Linked DNA regions of Homo sapiens. The protein of the gene in region 1 purifies or fractionates together with the protein of each later gene. This does not show direct contact. Each region holds a gene or a part of one and is shown on either strand. Other genes may lie near its edges. The genes, in order: AGRN and NID2.

Evidence for each region.
Region 2: the proteins of AGRN (region 1) and NID2 purify together in Homo sapiens (affinity purification with mass spectrometry; 2 studies listed by BioGRID and IntAct, with this or other methods). This does not show direct contact.

What each region holds. Positions count from the first base shown.
Region 1 is NC_000001.11:1,048,510-1,058,155, reverse strand, and holds the end of AGRN (agrin isoform 2 precursor), read right to left. Parts: intron 9,290-9,646; coding exon 9,097-9,289; intron 8,921-9,096; coding exon 8,705-8,920; intron 8,591-8,704; coding exon 8,361-8,590; intron 8,254-8,360; coding exon 8,119-8,253; intron 7,924-8,118; coding exon 7,827-7,923; intron 7,730-7,826; coding exon 7,565-7,729; intron 7,431-7,564; coding exon 7,319-7,430; intron 7,125-7,318; coding exon of another isoform or gene 7,113-7,124; intron 6,904-7,112; coding exon 6,787-6,903; intron 6,704-6,786; coding exon 6,511-6,703; intron 6,429-6,510; coding exon 6,341-6,428; intron 6,164-6,340; coding exon of another isoform or gene 6,140-6,163; intron 4,696-6,139; coding exon of another isoform or gene 4,663-4,695; intron 4,404-4,662; coding exon 4,179-4,403; intron 3,709-4,178; coding exon 3,605-3,708; intron 3,333-3,604; coding exon 3,175-3,332; 3' UTR 2,780-3,174; coding exon of another isoform or gene 2,757-2,779; 3' UTR 2,040-2,756; downstream 1-2,039. UniProt on the Homo sapiens protein: Isoform 1, isoform 4 and isoform 5: neuron-specific (z+) isoforms that contain C-terminal insertions of 8-19 AA are potent activators of AChR clustering.
Region 2 is NC_000014.9:52,036,550-52,047,698, forward strand, and holds part of NID2 (nidogen-2 precursor), read right to left. Parts: intron 6,383-11,149; coding exon 6,233-6,382; intron 5,802-6,232; coding exon 5,556-5,801; intron 4,303-5,555; coding exon 4,102-4,302; intron 2,429-4,101; coding exon 2,198-2,428; intron 1-2,197.

The DNA.
Region 1 (9,646 bases):
CAAACACTCAGACGCATGGGACCTCCTGGGTGTGGAGCTTGTGGGTATTATCTTTTCATTTTTTTTTTGAAACGGAGTCGCGCTCTGTCGCCCACGCTGGAGTGCAGTGGTGCAATCGCGGCTCACTGCAACCTCCGCCTCCCGGGTTCAAGCGATTCTCGTGCCTCAGCCTCCCGAGTAACTGGGATTACAGATACCTGCCACCACGCCCAGATGTTTGTGTTTTTAGTAGATACAGGGTTTCACCATGTTGGCCAGTCTGGTGTTGAACTCCTGACCTCAGGTGATCCGCCTGCCTCAGCCTCCCAAAGTGCTGGGATTATAGGCATGAGCCAATGTGCCCAGCCATTGGTGTTATTTTATTTCGATGTTTTTGTGGTTTTCTTTTTTCTTTTTTTTTTTGAGACGGAGTCTCCTTCAGCCACTGAGGCTGGAGTGCAATGGCGTGATCTCGGCTCACTGCAACCACCGTCTCCTGGGTTCAAGCAATTCTCCCGTCTCAGCCTCCGGAGTAGCTGGGACTACAGGCACCCACCATCATGCCCAGCCAGTTTTTGTATTTTAGGAGAGACAGGGTTTCACCATGTTGGCCAGGCTCGTCTTGAACTCCTGACCTCAGGTGATCCACCCGCCTCGGCCTCCCAAAGTGCTAGGATTACAGGTGTGAGCCAGCGCACCTGGCTTTTTTTTTAAAATCATTAATACAAAATAGAAAACTACACTTAGTTATTTTTCATAAGAGACAGCAGTTTGCGAAGGGCCACCCAGCTGGCCACACACCCTACCCCTTCTTCCCCTGCTTCTCCCCAGGGCTCACATCTGCCGGTGCTGGGTGCCAGCTCTGTTTTTTAGACAGGTTCTCGCTCTGTCACCCAGGCTGGAGTGCAGTGGTGCAATCACAGCTTGCTGCTGCCTCAACCTCCTGGATTCAAGTGATCCTCCTGCCTCAGCCTCCGGAGTAGCTGGAGCTACAGGTGTGTACCACCACGCCTGGCTAATTAAAGAAATTTTTTTGCAGAGATGGGGTCTCACTATGTTGCCCAAGCTGATCTCCCACTCTTGGCCTCAAGCGATCCTCCAGCCTCAGCCTCCCAAAGTGCTGGGATGACAGGTGTGAGCCACCGCGCCCTTCCCTGAGGCTCAGCTTCTGCAGTGCTGTCACCCACACACTAATTTAGGAAGCAGGTTAGAGGGAGTCCAGGAGCCCAGCTACCCCAGGGGTTTCTAGTTAGGGGCTTCCAGCAGTGCCAAGGGTTGGTTCTGCACACCTGGGCCAGTGAAAAGGCTGCCCAACAGCCCCACGCACCCTGGCTCCCCCCAGACCCTTCCAGTCCTGGGTGCAGCCTCCTCCCAACCCTGTGCTCTGACACAGATGTGGGCCAATTATGTGTGCAGGCACACACACACACACACACACGTGCACGCCAGAGAGCAGGCACACACACCCACACATACACGCCGGAGAGCAGGCACACGCACCCACACACGTACATGCACCCACACATGCACGCCGGAGAGCAAGCACACGCACCCACACGCACACGCACCCACACATACACGCCGGAGAGCAGGCACACGCACCCACACACACGTACATGCACCCATACATGCACGCCGGAGAGCAGGCACACGCACCCACACCCACACGTACCCACACGTGCACGCCAGAGAGCAGGCACACGCACCCACACGCACATGCACCCACACGTACCCGCACCCACACGTACCCGCACCCACACGTGCACGCCAGAGAGCAGGCACATGCACCCACACGTACCCGCACCCACACACACACACCCCCACACGTACACGCACCCACACGTGCACGCCAGAGAGCCTCCTGCCTCCACGGCCCCGCCTCCCACAGTGCTCAGCAGTGTGTGCTCCCCACTCAGGGCCTCATCAGCCACAAGGATCCCTGTGCAGGGCCTGGCTCCATCCAGGGCCACCCAAGGGAGCTCCAAGTCCGTGCTCCCACCACAAAGCGGAGCAAGAAGCCAACGGGCCAGCGCGCTGGTGAGGATGGACAAAAGCAATGCTTTTAAAGTTTTCAGACTTTATTTCACAGCGATTGACACAGAAACATACTAGAGTTAGTAACACGGCACCCAGCCCCACCGCCGCCCGCTTCATCGGGTCCTGCTCCTAGGAGGACTGGGCTGGGGCTGGGGGTGGGGATGGGATGGGGGTGGGGAAGGGACGGGACGTTGCAGTTTAAGGCATTTCTGGCTTCGGAGCCATCCCTGCCACCTCTGCACCTGCCCCTTGACCTTGGTCAGACACTGGCTGGCCCCTGGTCATTCTGAGACAAGGACGACTTTCACTGACGCTGTGGGGAGGATTTGCAGTGAGGCAGCCCTCAGCCGCTCTCAGGCGAGATGGGAAAGATGAGACCCACCACTCCAGGGGTCAAATAAAATCAACACATGAAGAACACAGCCATGGCCAGGCCCAGATACCCAGGCAGGCGGCAGAGGTCAACCCCATCCCACAGTGAGCTCCTCTCGATAGCCCCTCGCAGGGCCTGGGGTGTGGCAGAGGGATACGGTCACGTCCAGGGTGGCTGGGCAGGGCCAGCTGAGGGTCAGGACACCCAGATCGGCCCTGGTCTGGCCTCTGCTCCTCAGCAGCCTGGGGCTGGCGCAGGCAGCACGGGAGCAACGCAGAGCTGTGCCCAGCAGTAACATTGTTTGGAAGTCACAGTATTGGCGCAGGAGGCCGAGGCAGGGCCCAGAGCACACACAGGAAGGAGCAGCTCAAATGGGGGCTTGGAAAGGCCCTGTGGGGTCACCCGGAGGAAGGGCCCCATCAGACCTCAGCAGCCCCTTCCTCTCTGGGACACGAGTCCCGCCTGACGGAGCGAGGGTGATTCAGGAGCCGGGGCTGCTTCCCGGCGGGGACACCGTGGGGCAGGCGCAGTGCAAGGCGGGGGCTCAGCACCTTGAGGCAGGGGTGTGTGTCCTGAGGCTGCCATCCACGCCGAGCCCTCCACGCTGCCACCTCGCCTGTCCATCCCTCGGCACTAGGTCTGTCTGCAGCACGGCTGCCTGGACGGAAGGGAGGCCGGGCCAGCAGTCCCTCCGGCCAACACTCAGGCAAGAAAATCATATCAAAAAGCAACAAGTTTACAAAAATAGAAAATAATTACAGCGGGCGCGGGGCTCTGGTGCCAGCTCATGGGGTGGGGCAGGGCCGCAGCTCTGGCTTGGTGACGGCGTCCTCCAGCAGGTGCAGCGGGTGCCGGCCCACCACCACGTCCCGCAAGCAGCCCACAAAGCCTGTGCCGTAGGCCTTGGGCAGTGCTGGGCCCACGGGCAGCTCCGGCAGGCCCCCTGCAGCACAGACAGTGGGAGTCACCCGGCTGTGACTCAGTGATGCTGATGGGCACCCCAACGAGCAGGTGACCAGCAGGGGGCCCACACCTGGGCACCCGCCTCCCGGCCCCACAGCACTGGGAACTGCAGGGGCTACAGCGGGAGAAGAGAGCCCAGCCCGCCGGCTCACATGCACCCTGACTCAAGGGTGGGCGCTGGGGGGTGGAGTCTGTCCCTCGGATATCATGAGACCCTTGGGCATCCCTCTCTAGTCTCCCCAAAACACTCACCAAGCCACAGGGCTCCATCAGTGTCCAGCTGCGTGGCGCCCAGCGGGGAGGAGCCGGTCACAGGGGCCTCATTGCCCACCTGCAGGGAACCTTCCCTCTGCTCCCTGGGTGTGCAGGGAGGGGGAGACCATCAGGGCCCAGAGTTCCCTCTGCCTCCTCTAGACCATAAGCCCTGCATCCTTCCTATGCCCTGCAGGTGCCTCAGCCTGGAGAACCCCCGAGGTATCACCCCTGGGGGCAAGGATGAGGTGGCCTTGACCCCAAGGAGGGCACTGGGAGCCAAGGCCGGGGACATTCCTGCAGCTCAAGCTTTGCTGGAGGCGACGGCCAGGCTCAGACTGGAGCGACCCCCGGCAGGCTCCGGGCAGGGCCGGGATGCCTTTCAGACGTGGAAACTGATCATTGCTTCTCCTGCATCTTCTTGGCCCTTCCTCCTCCCACTGGCAGTGACCTCGGCTCAGGCAGCAAGGCGTGTCCTCCCTGACCCCTGGTCACAAGTGACTGGACACAGCCCAGCTGGGCAAGTCTGGGCAGCCCTCGCCACTATTCTCGGCACGCTGGGTTCCCTACTCACCTATGTGCCACGACCCGCAACCAGCGGTTGGTGTTGACGGGCACGGTGGAACGCAGCACCACGGGCTGGGAGCCCAGGTTGTAGCTCAGTTGCAGGTGCCCGTCCACAATGGCCAGTGCCACATAGTCTGCCCGCTCCGTGGCCTTGCCACTCCAGAGCACCAGCCCCTGCGTGGCCTCAGTGCGCAGGCTCAGTTCAAAGTGGTTGCTCTGCAGTGCCTTCTCGCTGGAGGGCAGAGGGCAGGTCAGGGCCTCTAGGAAGGTGGCAACAGGACAGGGTGGGGGAGGCGGGAGGACAAGGGCCCCAGCTGCGGAGGCCACAAGGGCTGTGACGGGACCCAGGGGTGGCTGGTGGGCAGACACCGACAGTGGGAGGGAGAAGAGGGATGGAGACAGGGGCAGCCTGGCAGAGAGAGATCAGAGAGACGGGCGGGAGGACAGATGGGCCAGCCAGGGGTCTGCAGGCACTGCTGCCACGTGCTCACCTGTGAAGGGCCCCGGAATCCAGAGTTTCGGGGCTTAGAAGCAGGAAGAGAGGGAGGCGGGTGAGCAGGGGACAGGCGGGGCCAATGCAAACCCATCTCAACACTGTGGGGTGCAAGGAGCAGGCACCCACAGAAGACATGCGTGACCTCGAGGATCACTGGCCGCCCACCAAAGAGCCCAGCAGGGACACCTACACATGCTTGTGCGGACACGAGACACGTGAGGGTGCAGACACCCACGTGCAGACACGAGACACTTGAGGGCACAGACACCCACATGCAGACACCCACGTGCAGACACCCACGTGCAGACAGCAGGGGAGCACAGCCAAGGCTGGGCGCAGAGATCAAGGAGGTAGGCGTAGGGTGGTATGGAGTGGAGACCAGGGGCTTGGATGCCCCAGTACACACATGCATGTGTGCATGCACGCAAACCTACACACGGACACACACACCCCTCCATGTTCACACACATACACACGTGTACACGAACACACACAGACACACCTGAGTGCTCCCCACTTACACCTGTTCATACACACACACATCTACATATCCCCCCATATATACACGCATATACACGGACCCATGCACACACTCGGACACACACCTGTCTCCCCCACATATACACACACATACATGGACCCATGGACACACACTCGGACACACACCTGCGTGTCTCCCTCATATACACACACATACATGGACCCATGTGCACACACTATACACACATGGACCCATGCACACACACTCGGACACACACCTGCGTGTCTCCCTCATATACACACACATACATGGACCCATGTGTACACACTATACACACATGGACCCATGCACACACACGGACACACACATGCATGTCTCCCTCACCTATACACACACATACATGGACCCATGTGCGCACACACTCAGACACACACCTGCGTGTCTCCCTCATATACACACACATACATGGACCCATATGCACACACACACACACGGACACATACCTGCATGTCTCCCTCATATACACACACATACATGGAGCCATGCACACACACGGCCGCATAGTCACACACGCATATCTACATGTCCCCCCCACATATACACACACACATATACATGGACCCATGCACACACACAGCTGGATATTCACACACACTTGCACATCCACTCCATATACATAGACACGCACAGACACAGCTGCATGTTCACACACGCGGAAGTGCACACGGACACAGACATGCATGCATATGCGCACAGGTGTGTACAGCCTCAGTGGTGGGGGTTGGCTGTGGGGCGACCCTCGGCCTGTGCCCTGGGAGGGGCGACTGCACTTCTGAGGCAGGAAACGGCCTCTTGCAGCCAAATAGCGCCGGACCCCCATCCTCCGCCACAAGGGATGGAAAGTTCCCCGGGGGCTCCGGACTCTGCTCCCCACCAGGAAGGATGGAGGAGTGGGAGTGAGAGGGAGCGGGGGGCGCCGAGCTCTACTCACACGGGGATCTCATTGGCCAGTTCGCTTGGAAACAAAGAGACAGACAGTGAGAGGCGGGAGGACCGGGAGGTGAGAGAGAGGCGGGAGGACAGAGGTGGCAGCACCGGGCCGTCCCCTCCTGGGCCCTCCTGGTGTGGGGGTCCGGTGTCCCGCCCCGAGGGCACAGATGGAACCGACAGCCAGCAGAGGATGGCACGTTACCTCTCGGTCACAGCGTTGAGGTACTCGACAAAGGTCCGCCCGTCAAAGGCCAAGGTATCCACGTCCCCCGCTGACTTCTCCACCAGCCCTGTGAGATAGGCAGGTGAGGGTGGGGCCTCGTGGGCTCCGGGCCCATCCGGCCTCCGCCCCCTGCCCTGTGCCAGGCTCACCCTTCTCGCAGTGCGGTCCTGAGAATCCCCCGGGACACAGGCACACATAGGCAGCCTCCCTCGGGACGCAGGAGGCCCCATTGAGGCAGGGGTGGCCTGAGGCCCGGGTGCAGGGGTGACCTGCAAAGGACGTGACGTCCACCTGCCGCAGCACGTGCTCCGGGGTCAGCAGCTGGCGGCCTCCGAGGGAGACCTGCAGGGCAGGGTGAGGGCCTTGTCCCGCCTGCCACCCCGCCCGCCCCGGAGGCCCTGCTGGGACGCCCCGCCCCCACATACCAGCTGGATGGCACCGTCGAAGCCAGAGGACACGGCAGCAGCACGGGCCAGCTTGCTGAAGTCGGGAGCGCCCCCTACGTAGAGCGGCTCCTTCAGGTTGAGGACGGTGTGCGGAACCTGCGGGGACGCCAGGTAAGTGGCTGTGCAGAGCCCACCCACGGTGCAGACCCAGGGCCCAGGCACCTGCACGCACCCGCCCCACCCGCCCATTGCCTATCTAGGGGGCAGCGTTAATCACACAGAAATGGCAGGGTCCTTAGTGGGGGAGGAGCTACCCTAGGGGTTGAGGCGCCAGAGACGGTGAGCGGATGAGAGGCCGACAGTACCTTGCGGGATTTCTGGCCTCCGAAGAGCGGGTGGGGTTGCAGAGCGAGAGCAGAGAGCAGGGAGGCAGAGGAGGCAGAGGACAGGGCAGGCGGCCAAGAGAACAGGACAGAAAAACAGCTCCGTGAGCGCCGGCAGGGGCGGGGCTGCCGCCCGAGGAGGAAGAGCAGGCAGCAGCGGGAGTCCCCTCGCGGCCCAGAGCACTCACCGGGGACTCCCCCAACACACGGGGGCCGTCGCCCACACGCAGGGCACCCTTGCGGCCGTTTCGCTCCAGTGAGACCCTGGTCCAGGCTCCCAGGGTGACTGGCTCCCTGCTCCTGGTGAGGAGGGGCAGCGTGAGTGGGCTCTGTCCACCACCGGCCACGCGACCACCCAGGGCCTGAGCGACCTGCTGGTGCCCCGGCCCCGGGCCAGTGCCCCAGGCCTCCCAGAGCCACCCTTGCCGGCCCACCTGATGACCGCTGCCCCCTTGCCCAGGTCGTAGCGGAACTCCAGGCGGCGGTCCCGCAGTGCCAGCGACACGAAGTCCCCCTTGCCGTCCGTCTTCTGCCCGTTGTAGAGCAGGAGGCCGCTGGGGCCTCGTGCCAGGAACACGACCTCCAGCGCCATCTTCTCCCTGGGGTCATGGGGAGTCGGGGTGTCTTTGCTGTCCCCTCCCCACAGGAGAGACGGAGGTGGGGGCCGGCCCTTCCCCCTGCTCCTGCCCCACCGACCCCAGGTCCCGTGCAAAGGTGTGCAGGCCTCTCAGCTCCAGGTGGGAGAAGCCGTTGAAGTCAGCCAGGAAGGGCCCAGAGCCGTCCTGCCCCGAGGCTGTAGGGAGAGTCACCAAGGCCTCAGTCCTGACCCCCGGGGCCTCCTGCACCCCATGCCAGCCGTGTGTGGATCCTAACTCAAAACCCAGACTAGACTGAGCCGCATCCTAACTGCAATGCTACCTGGAACCTGTACCCGCCCAAACGTTCAACCCCCCCCCCCCCCCTGCCCCGAGAGCCCCACGCCCCCGACCTGTCTGGCAGAAGGTGCCCTCACGCCCCAGGGGGCACTCGCACTGAGCACCACCCTCGGGCAGCACACGGCAGGGCGCCGCCCCATGGCAGGGGTTGGGCTGGCAGGGGCTCTTCTCATCGGCACAGGTTGGTCCTGGATGGAGGAAGACGGGACCGGGACCGAGGTCCCAGGAGGCGTCGGTTGGGTACCGCCCACAGGCCCCGGGGTCCCACTCCCACCCGCCCCGGCCCCACCCTCACCGACGCGGCCGGGCGGGCACTGGCAATGGAACCTTCCAGCCTCCAGGTTCTGGCATGGGGCCCCGCCATGGCAGGGGTTGGGCAGGCAGGGGTGGTCCCCGCACTCGCCCACGCCAGAGCCTCGGGTGGCAGCCCCCGGCCCAATGCCAAGCTCCAGGCGCTGGTTGTTGACGTCCAGCAAACGGATGCACCCCCTCAGGCCGGCGCCCACGAAGGTCCGCTCCAGCGCCCTGCCACCAGGAGGGACACCGGGTCAGGGCTCAGGGGCCACAGGCAAAGCCACCTCGTACACCGGGACCCCAAAGGGCCGGGGTCGGGGCCACACCACCCTCCAAGGGACTCACACGGCAGCCTGGTCCTCGGGTACGCCGCCCACAAAGAGGTCTGTGTCCAGGTTGAGGCCGTCGGTGCCACTGGGACTCTCGCCCAGAACAGGGGTCTCACCATCCACCGAGAGGGTGCCCCGGCGCCAGTGCCGGGACAGCTCCAGGCGGTGCCACTGGCCCGGCTCTACCGGCACGGCACTGGTCAGCACCGCCGGCCCCGAACCTGTGTCAAACCTGAGGGCAGGAGCAGGTGCTCAGGACCATCGCCCGGCCCCGTCCCCACCCCGCCTACCTGAGCTGCCCCGCCCCCGTCCCCACCCCACCCACCTGAGCTGCCCCGGCCCCCCCTCCCCCGCCCGTCCCCTCCCCGCCCACCTGAGCTGCCCCGGCCCCGTCCCCTCCCCGCCCACCTGAGCTGCACGCGGCCATCTAGCAGCGCCAATGCCAGGAAGTCCTTGCCCCGGGCGTTGCCATTGTACAGCAGCAGCCCCTGAGGCTCCAGCGCCCGGAATTCCAGTGCCAGGCGCAGCGTGTGGTAGGCGCGGAGAGTGGGGAAGGCCAGGAAGGAGCGGCCCTCGAAGGCCGGCACAGGGGCGCCAAGCACTGCAAAGGGCGACCGGGAGGGCCGGCTGGAAAAGCTCCGAGGATTCCCCACTTTTATCCCTGAAACCGCCCCCTGCTTTTTTTTTTTTTTTTTTTTTTGAGACGGAGTTTTGCTCTTTTTGCCCCGGCTGGAGTGCAGTGGCGCGATCCTGGCTCACCGCAACCTCCGCCTGCCAGGTTCAAGCGATTCTCCTGCCTCAGCCTCACGAGGTGGGATTACAGGCGCCCACCACCACGCCCGGCTAATTTTGTATTTTTAGTAGAGACAGAGTGTCTCCATGTTGGTCAGGCTGGTCTCGAACTCCCGACCTCAGGTGATCCGCCTGCCTCGGCCTCCCAAAGTGCTGGGATTACAGG
Region 2 (11,149 bases), on another chromosome or scaffold:
TAACTTTGTGTTTCACTTTGAGAAACCACTATTTTGTTTTTCACAGTAGCCACATCATTTTATAATCACACCAGCAACGTATGAGGGTTCCGAATTTTCCATGTTCTCGCCAACACTTGTTATTACCCGTTTTTTGATTATACTCGACCACATGATGTAAAGTAGTATCTCATTGTGGTTTTGATTTGCATTTCCCTGATGACTAATGATGCTGAGCATCTTTACACATGCCCATTGGGTATCTGTATATCTTTTTGGAGAGAGGTCCTTGCAGAGCTTTTGCCCATCTTTTAGTTAGCTTGTTTTTTTATTGAGTTGTAAGATACTTCGTATACTCTAGAACAAATATCACATGATTTAAAATACTGTCTCCCATTCTATGGCTGTGTTTTCACTTTGTTAATAATGTCCTCTGAAGCACAAACTGTTAAAATTTTGATGACACCCAGTTTATTTTGCTGTTGCTTGTGCTTTTAGTGTCGTACCTAAGAAACCATTAGCAAATTCAAAGTCACAAAAATTTACCCATATGTTTTCTTCTAAAAGTTTTAACTCTTACACTTAGGTCTGTTGGCCCATTTTGAGTTGGATATGCTGTGAGGTAAAAGGTTCAACTTCATTCTTTTGTATGTGGTCACTCAGTGGTCCCAGCACCATAGTTAACAATAGTTTAAAAGACTATTCTTTCTCCATTGAATTGTTTTGGCACTGTGTTTTTTGTTTTGTTTTGTCTTTTAACCATCAGAATTCTATTATTATTATACTTTAAGTTTTAGGGTACATGTTTACAACGTGCAGGTTTGTTACATATGTGTACATGTGCCATGTTGGTGAGCTGCACCCATTAACTCGTCATTTAGCATTAGGTATATCTCCTAATGCTATCCCTCCCCACTCCCGGCACTGTTGTTGAAAAAGCAATTGACTTTTAATGTGAGTATTTCTGGGTTCCCACTTCTGTTCCTTTGATCTTTACATGTATCCTTACGCCAGGACCACACTGTCTTGATTACTCTAGATTTCGAGTTTGAGAAATACAAGTCTGACTTTATTCTTTTCCAAGATTGTTTTGGCTATTCTGTGTTCTTTGAATTTCCATATAAATTCTAGAATCAGCTTGCCAATTTCTTCAAAGAGCCAGCTGAGATTCTGATAGGGATTATGTTGAATTAATAGATCAATTTGGGAAGTATTCACATCTTAACAGTATTAAGTCTTCCAATCCATGAATGTGGAACATCTTCCCATTTAACTGGGTCTTAAATTTTTTTCCAAAAATGTTTTGTGGGATGCAATGTACAAGTACTGCACTTCTTTTTAAAAATTTATCTCTTTTTGAAACAATTTCTTAATCTTTAGTTTGCTCATTGCTACTATAGAGAAATACAATTTGGTGTACTGATCTTGCATATCTTATAACATTGCGAACTTGTTCTTTAGTTCTAATAGTGTTTTAGTGAATTCCTGAGATTTTCTACACAAAATGTCATCTGAGACTAATTTTACTTTGTCCTTTTCCAATTTAGATGGCTTTTATTTTGTGTTCTTGCCTAATCACCCTGGCTAGAAATTCTAGTACTGAATTGAATAAAAGTGGCAACAGCAGACATCCTTGTCTTGTTCCTAAGCTTCAGGGAAAAGCATCCAGTCTTTCACCATTAAGTATAATGTTCTGGGAATCATGGAGGGGGAGGTTATACATCAAGTTCTATGATGTTTGGTTTTTCCAGATACTAGCTCTTTGCTCCACCTTAGTTTTGGATGAAATTCTTCTCATCTGTTTTAGCTAAAATGTCACTTTCTTGGGGACATCTTTTCTGAATCTTCAAACTAGACTCACAGTGCCCTGCTCTCATCACACTTGTAACAAATACTTGTCAGCATCACTCTCCCTCCTAATTCCAGTCTGCCTTGTTCACAGGTATATTCCTGATTGGCACGCACAGTTGGGTATTGCTATAAACCAGCTTCACATACTATGCTCTATTTCCTGACTTTGGCAGGGACACTGTTCCCTGCCCTAAAACTCTTTTCTGCCTCTGTTTCCAACTCAAGGGCAAGGATCTGCTCTATTCATCCTTATACCTAGCACATAACACAGCATGGCACTAGGTAACCCTTAGTAACCTCTGTGAATCATTCTAACTCTACTTAAAAGGATGTCATTTTTACCCAACAACAAAAAAGGAAACCTTACCTTTGACCGGGCCAATTTGATTGGTCACAGCAAATCTAAGCACTCTTTCTTCGTCATTATACAAGGCAAAGACCCGGTCCACGTTCAGCTGCTGGGTGGTGGGGAAGGACGGGTGTCTGGGGGCGTGCCTGCACACCTGGTAAGTGATGTTCTGGTGGATGCGGTAGGACCATGTTTGGTTGATTGCACCAAAAGTCAGAGAGTAGTCTCTGGAACTTGTAGAGGTCACAGCTGCAACAAACACAGTGGTAATTTTTTAAAAATATTAAATACAGAGATTTTCATGTGAGGTGGATTTTTCTGCAGTTTTTTTCATCTAATTCTTGGAGTGTGTTCCCTTGGGAACCTCCTGAGTTTATATGAAAAAATGTGTAAGGAAATCCCAAAAACCTGAGTGGATGCAAAGCCACAGTGCTGAGAGGGAGAAGGCACTACAATTGTCCATGTTATTATACACAAAGAATAAGTGTTACTAAGGGCCAGCCATGCCAACAGTGCTCTCTACATACTGCCTCATTTATTCCTCACAACAGCCTGGTGAGGTGGGCACTAAATCATGTGATCAGAGGCTCACAAAGGTTAAGTAGCCTAAGATGCAATGCTGCCACATGGTAGAGCTGGAACTGAAACTCACATTGGTTTGACTCTACACCCTAAATTTTAAACCAATCCATCTTCTACATTTCACAGAAGTGACGACTTCCAACACCTCGCACTTCAGTAAATCTGAAGGATTCCAGAGAAGGGAAAGGGTTGTCTCTCACCATCTGAGTCTAGGAGTCAAGCTCAGGTCAGTGATCCGGACACTGACCATTTTGTTCACAGCCCAGGTCTCTGCTTCCCCTTGTCTTCCCTACATCTCCTGCCAGGCTGCCAGCTCTCAGCATAGGAGCAGCAGGGGTCAGAGGAAAGGCACAACTCAATCCGGATTGCTGTGCTGCACAACAGCAGCTGTGATGGAGGCAGCATCCTGTGCGCAGGTAGTACTTTCACAGAACACATCACGCTTCGCACACATTGATCACATAATATAGAAAAAGCATTTTTAGTTCCATGTGAAAGATGAGAAAATACATTCTCAGATATTAAGAGGCCTTTCCCTATAGATATTAAATGGCAAGTCCAGGATATAAATTCTTATCTTTTGACTCCAAATCTAGCATTAGTTTTATAATAAATTATAGCATCTCTGTGTTTTTTGGTTTTGTTTTTGAGATGGAGTCTTGCTTTGTCGCCCAGGCTGGAGTACAATGGCACAATCTCGGCTCACTGCAACCTCCACTTCCCAGGTTCAGATGATTCTCCTGCCTCAGCCTCCCAAGTAGCTGGGATCGCAGGAGCGTGCCACCACACCCTGCTAATTTTTGTATTTTTAGTAGAAACAGGTTTTCACCATGTTGGCCAGGCTGGTCTTGAACTCCTGACCTCAGGTGATCCACCCACCTTGGCCTCCCAAAGTGGTGGGATTACAGGCATGAGCCATTGCACCTGGCCTCTTTCTGTGATTTTTTTTTTTTTTAAAGCAGCCTGAACTCATCAGCTGAAACAAGGTTGAGATAAATATAAATTCCAATAATCACTATTTTTCCATGTTGCAGAAAGTAGGATGGTTAAAAACTGTATATAATTATACCATCCCTACCCACCCCATGGACAATGTTGCTATTGATTTTATTATTTGAAAATACTATGTAGGGATATAGATATTCTTATGTATAGCAGCCATTCTGCTCACTTACACGATATATTTCATGGTAACAATAAGAGTAATAACATAATAGAGCTCATTTTATGTTCCATGCACTGTTCTAAGGACATGCCATGTAAGTCATTTAAGCCTTGTATCTATCTTGTGAGATGGGCATAATCCCCATTTTACAGATGTGAAGACTGGTTATACATACTGGAGTCGGAGTAGTGGTACAGCTCCTTGTAGGGAGAGATGTGGGCTGTGAAATTTGCTGAGACGTAAGGCACCTGGCCTTGAATGTTGGTCTTAATGCTCAGGTAGTTCTCTGGGTCAAGTCCCTCAGCAGTTTGAGTGATACGAACCGTCTCCTCTCCCGGGTAGAATGTAACTTCCATGTCATGGGTAAAGGCAGCACCTGGAGATGAAAAACATTCAGCACAGGGATGAAAAGAGGTCTTGCTTAAACAGTTACCAGTATATACTGCCCGCTCCCAATTTCTACTGCTGTTGGAGATCGTGCCTAAGGAGATTATCTGATATCTGAGAGTAAGCACTATCAGCTGTTGATTCCATAAGTTCCCAAACTTTTCCATTGAAGAATATGGTTTCATCCTGCCTTACCTCACCCAGCTTCTCTTTGAACAAGCTTGTATTCTGTGAGAAATACTCTTGGGAACGTCCTTGACTTTTCTCTAAGGTTGCTAGACTTAGCAAAAAACAAACAAACAAATAAACCTAACAACAAAAAAACAAAAACAAATAAACTACCACCTAAGACATTCAGGGTTTTGTTTGAATTTCAGATAAGTATGTCTCATGAAATATGTGGGTAATACTTATACTAGAAAATTGTTTATCTGAAATACAAATTTATCCAGGTGTGCCATTTTTTATCTACTTTTGACCCAAGGGCTTTATTCAAATTTTGATTAAAGCAAGAACCTATTAACAGCTACCGAGCTCTGCAGTTAAAGATGGAGAAAGAACTTCTCACAAAACTATTTTTAATGCAATAAAGATAAAACCTCTAGCAAACAAGTTTTCAGGTTGGAAGGTGAGAATCCAAAAAGTATCTTCTAAATCCTTGTTGTCAACGGGTGGCCTTTCCAGCAACACTGGTACCTCACCTCCTAGCTTGGTAGAAAAGCAAAATCACGGACCCCACCCCAGGCCTGCTGAACCAGAATTTACATTTTGACAAGACCTCCAAGTGATGTGTGTGCAGGTTCAAGTCTGGGGTGCACCGGCCTATACTATTATAGGTTGTGGAGCTGGGAGGAGAAGAGCACCCCTTCCCCATGAAGTAAAATCATCCCCAGGTGCCCCAAGTACCATTTTTGCATTTGACAGATCTGTGCATAATTTAAAAAGCCTGACAAATATGCTGCAACAAATTGGGGTAAGAGGACACAAATGTTCTGAATGGAATCATCCTGTTTCTCAGAACAGCTGGGAGAACATTTAGACGAAATCACTGCCTTTCAAAAATCAGTGATGTGAGGTCAAACCATTCCCAACAACCTGTGGCCAGAAAACTACACACATGTGGCTCTAGTACATTAAACAAGTGATTCCTCTGTCACTGCGTAAAGGCCTAAAGACAGTGCCCCAAGGAGCACCACTGCCAAAGCAATGCTGACTACCGGCCTTCTCAGAGGCCCTACTCACCTGCGAGGCTGAAGCCGTTCTCAGAGCCAGGTTTTTCTAAAGCAAAGAGCCAGCCAAACAGGCCTCCAATTGGTGTGAGGGGGAGGAGGGCCTGGGCTGCTGGCTGTGGGATGTGGCTGATGGCCGTGTAGGCTCTGCCATCATTGCCCACGATATACGCATGCAGGTCCACATCAGTGAAGTGCACGGGTGTATGGCCCACGTGGAGGTGGCCACTCACTTTCCCATTCACTCGGTGAGGTGCCCCTAAAAGACAGCAAATCCAGTTAGGCTTGGACGTCATCCTGGCTAGAGATGGGTGTACCCAGGTATAATTATTCCACTGACAACTTCCAAAACTCACTCTTTAGCAAGTCACTTTAATGATTTCCTAACCAACCAATTATCCATCTATGAAACAGTCCTGCCTCCAGTCTGTTTTCTCCCCTCCTCCTTCTACTCCACTACACTTTGGCTCTAATGAGCTGGCAGAAGGAAGCATTTCTGGATAATCCTCAAATTGGGAATCAGCCCAAACCAGTTCATTCCTCACACATTTATTGAGCACCTGCAAGTTGATAGCACTCTGATTTAAGTAGTGGAGATGTTTGGTCCATAAAGCAGAGCTCACAGTGGTAGCTGGAAACAGGTAAGCAGCAGGAATAGACACACAGGAGTTCCTGGCCCCAGTCAATTACCTTCAGGCAGACAGTGCTTCCCATTTCCATAAAACTTGGATTGGCAGTGGCAGCAGAAGCCAGTGGCATAGTCCGTGCAGAAGGCATGCCGGGAGCATTGTCTGTGGTTGTGTTCACAGGTTTCCTTGTTGGCAGCATTATACGTGAAGACTGAAAAATAAAACAAACTTGCCTTAAAAGGACTAAATGATTCCAATGTCACTGCTGCATCGGGGACACAACATCTGCTCCATAGAAGCAGTTTAGATCATAACAAACAGTTTTTGATGTTTAAGAGACCGGCATAACATTCAACCCAAGGGAATTAATCTGCTTTGTCTGCTGGCAAGAAGAATTGCTTACTGCTCCCGGCTGGGTCCCATTGCAGAGTTGGTGAACTAAGATGAGACTGCACCCGTGGGTTTGAGTGCAGTAAAATGAAAGCAAACCAGTAAGTACATGTTAGGTTGAACTTCATGAAACCACTATTTTTGTGGGTCAAAAAGGGCTAAATATCAGCACTTTTATATGGTTCAACCTAAACACATCCTGAGAGGAAGACATAATAGAGAAGCTAACAAATGTCTTATGTCTAACCATCCTTCTTTTAGGGAACACTGAACTTAAAAAAGATAATAGCTGGTCTCGCTACCAAGATTGTTTTGAGGGAAGGGTCTTAAAGAACACACGCACCTACCTCAAAGAAAAGGCATGGGGAGAAGGGGACAGAGGAGGGCAAAACAACAGGGATTCAAGCTATTAAAATGCCCTATGCCCTTGGCAGGGTTTAACTATGATGGGTATGGTACAAGCATGATTTCCACGCAGTAGCAGACAGCTTGGGCCCCACTCGCAGATCTTCCAAGAAATTATGGAGGACTAGGATAAATTCAGTGCTCTGGCAGCTGTTTCTTCCATTTCCTACTTATTCTGCCCATTAAAAGAAGAGGGCCATCTGTGCTGCAAAGAAATGGGGAAACTGGAGCAAATGCCATAGTTCATAAAGGAAATAGCCAAGGGGGTAGGGTGTGGCGGGGGTTGTGGATGGACAGGAGGGTGCTTTCTCCGGGGCACTAGGAAATATGCCAATCCCAAGCATGGCCACCAGGAGGCCAAGCGGCTGCACACACCTCTGCCTCCACATCCCCAGGAGGTGGAGTTGGCTGGAGACTCCAGGAGCATGCTGTTGAGCAGGGATGGCATGGAATTCTAGTGTGAGACACGGATGCTGGCATGAAGGAGGACACCCACCCTACTCTTAGGAAAAACCAAGTGGTAGTTGTGTTCCAGGTCTATCTGGAAACGAGGAGACAGGAGGGGAGGAAGAAATCCAAAGATCAATCTTTACCCAGTATTCCCAGGGAGAACAGAAAGTAAAGGAGCTAATGAGACATAGCATTATAGGTACAATGTCACCAAGATAAAGACCTCCATCAGCAAATAAAAATATAACAAAGTTAACACTTCAATCGCGCTTAACATATACAAGCTTTACATTTAACAACCTTTTTTTTTTTTTTTTTTTTTGAAACGGAGTCTCGCTCTGTCGCCCAGGCTGGAGTGCAGTGGCACGATCACAGCTCACTGCAAGCTCCACCTCCCAGGTTCACGCCATTCTCTTGCCTCAGCCTCCTGAGTAGCTGGGACTACAGGCACCCACCACCACGCCTGACTAATTTTTTGTATTTTTTAGTAGAGACAGGGTTTCACCATGTTAGCCAGGATGGTCCTGATCTCCTGACCTCGTGATCCACCTGCCTCGGCCTCCCAAAGTGCTGGGATAACAGGCGTGAGCCACCCCGCCCGGCCAACAACTCTTAATTTGCACAACAACCCTAGGTAGCAGGGACTTTTTTTTGTTGCTGTTGTTGAGACAGGGTTTTGCTCTGTCACCCAAGCTGGAGAGCAGTGGTGCCATCTCGGCTCACTGAAAGCTCGACTTCCCAGGCTCAAGTGATCCTCCTATTTCAGCCTTTTGAGTAGCCGCAGCCACAAGCATGCATCACACCTGCCTACTTTATTTTTTGGTAGGGTGGGTTGGGGGGAGGGGTCTCCCTGCGTTGCCCAGGTTGGTCTCGGTCTCGAACTCCTGGGCTCAAGTGATCTTCCCACCTAGGCCTCCCAAAATGCTGGGATTACAGGTATGAGCCACCACTCTGGCCAGGGACAATTTTTTAACCCGTTTGCAGATAAAGCTGAGGCACAGTAGACTAAAGCACCTGAAGTCGCATAGGCAGTGAGTGGCAAAGGTGGGAACCGAACCTAGGACATCTAGCTGGAGAATCTTAACTGCTACTCTCCACGACCCCTTCAATGGGATCCAAGTACGGAGATCATGAGCACTAGATTAGGGGTCACCACATGTCTGGGGTTAATCAGCACAGACTTCAAGTATAATTCGAGTCATACTTTATAAACTGGGTTTAATGGTAGAAGCAAGCAGGGAAGATTATCGAGATGACTATTACAGCATGTTGAAAAACAGCACAGGTAAGAAATGAGAGTAGCAGCAGCGGCATTAGCTTTTGAACAGTACTGGAGTGCTGCCTGCAGATCCTTGGGAAAGCAGCAAGCTGAGGGTTGGCAGGACAGACAGTGTAGGTTCAAGTGGAAAATCTGATTAGAACATAGTAGGAATGAAGTTATGACTCAAGATTTAGTATAGGGCCTTGATGACTTGGCTAAGAAATTCCAGTTTGATAAAAATAGAAAATTAGGCATGACTCAACTTTATTTAAACAAGAAAGTGACAAGCTTAACTTAAACAGAAAAGTGATATAAAACTCAAGGCAGAAAAAAAAAAAAAAAAAACCCAGGATGGATCATGGTAAAATAGATGGCTGTGAAGAAAACTGTATCACTGTCTATTAGTTTAAGAAAGGGAAAAAAACATTTAGAGTAAAAGGAAATGAATGTAACTTGGATGTGTCAAAATCTCAGGTTTCTCCAGCTCAGAAATTCACAACTAAGTGTAAGGAAGCAGCTACAGGAGGGACTCACACACTCACCAGTGTGCTCATGGCTTAAGGGCCATCAGGACTTTCTCCCAGAGCTCAAGGAATGAGGGGCTGCAGAAAGCGCCAAGCTCTAGGACTCAACCTCAGCCCTCCCTCGGGGGCTTTGTGGAAACTATGCAAACTGTCTTTCAGCTTCCTCATCTCTAAAATAAGTAGAACACCTCTTCCTCACCCCTGCATTGCCAGAAGTCGCATTTCTTCTTAATGTACTTCTGAACACCAAGTAAAAAGGCAATCTGCTATAGGTCTAAAGAACAGCCATTTGGCTGGGCCCGGCAGCTCACACCTGTAATCCCAGCACTTTGGGAGGCCGAGGCAGGCGGATCACGAGGTCAGGAGACTGAGACCATCCTGGCTAACACGGTGAAACCCCGTCTCTACTAAAAATACAAAAAATTAGCCAGGCGTGGTGGTGGGCGCCTGTAGTCCCAGCTACTCGGGAGGCTGAGGCAGGAGAATGGCGTGAATCTGGCAGGCGGAGCTTGCAGTGAGCCGAGATCGCACCACTGCACTCCAGCCTGGGCGACAGAGAGAGACTCCATCTCAAAAAAAAAAAAAAAAAAAAGCCGTTTTCATAATATTCAGATAAAAATCAATCCAAACTTTACAAGCTGTTCTGCCCACAAATTAAGGAAATAACAGGCTTGGATTGTATCTTATTTCAGTTATTTTGTGAAGCCTTATTCTGCAACCCAATTCTTATTCTGAGGCTGAATTATGAAACAAGGAGAGAGAAGATGGAGGAGAGACAGTCTAGATATGGAGAGTTAAACTAGGTGGAGTCATAGCTTTTATCTAAGTAAAAAGAGGCAGGGCGATGCAGCCAGCAACTTACAAGTGCAACTGTGCAAAGGTTTATAAATAGATTGGAAGCTGTACTACATTTTTCTATTACAGAAAAAGAAGTTATAACAATGAGCAGGCTCCCATGAAAGGCTATTATGAGACTTAAACTGTAATTACAATGGGCTAACTAGTTACTGTTAAGCTAACCTGGGAGTCTTTTTAAACAGTTTTGTGGAATATTGTATTTTTAGGATGGTACTTACTGAGCCAAGAACACACACTGTCTCTTTCAGCTTCATAACAGCCACATGAAGGAAAGAAGATGGATCAGCCCCTAATCCGGGGGAAGGCAAGCCTCCATTTATAATCCCTCTTCCACGCCTGCCTTCATACCCAAGTGCACACACAGGTTTGCACACTTACCATTTACAATGGCAGCTTGTTAGGTGAAAGGTAAATGCTTCTTACAATTTTTGTTCATTCATTCACTAATTCAACAAGTATTTACTGAGCATTCACTATAGACCTGTACCTAGTCTAGAAACTGAGGACATGGCAGGGAGCAAAAGAGACAAAAATTCACATCCTGAAGCTTACATTCTCCCCAGCAGCAGTCAATAAACAAGTAAATTACTTAGTGGGGTGGATGTGTAAGAGCTGTGCAAAGAAATACAGCAGAGAAAGACAAGAGGGTGGGAGGGGGCAGGTGTACATGGCTCTTTTTAATAGCATGGTCAGGGAAGACCTCAGGAGAAGGTGACTGAGCAGAGGCCAGGAGGAGGTGAGGGAGTGAACCCCACAGATGAGGGCAGGCGTGGTGCTGTGTCAGGCAGGAGGGGTGTGTGGGCATGTGGGAGGGATGGTGAGAGAAGAGGTGGCCTGGGTCATTCATGCAGGGTCTCAGAGATCACAGGAAGGATTTGAGCTTTCATCTGAGTGAGATGGGAAGCACTAGAGGGTTTCGAGCAGAAGAGTAACATGCTCCGACTACAGTAAATCAGACAGGAGCTGGTCCCTTGGTGGTAAGAAGTGCTGGTACAGGGGATAAGAAGGGCCCAGGTCTGGGATATTCTGAAGGTGGAACCGAGAGGGTTTGCTGGTAGACTGGATGTGGGATGATGTTCAGTCCTGATGT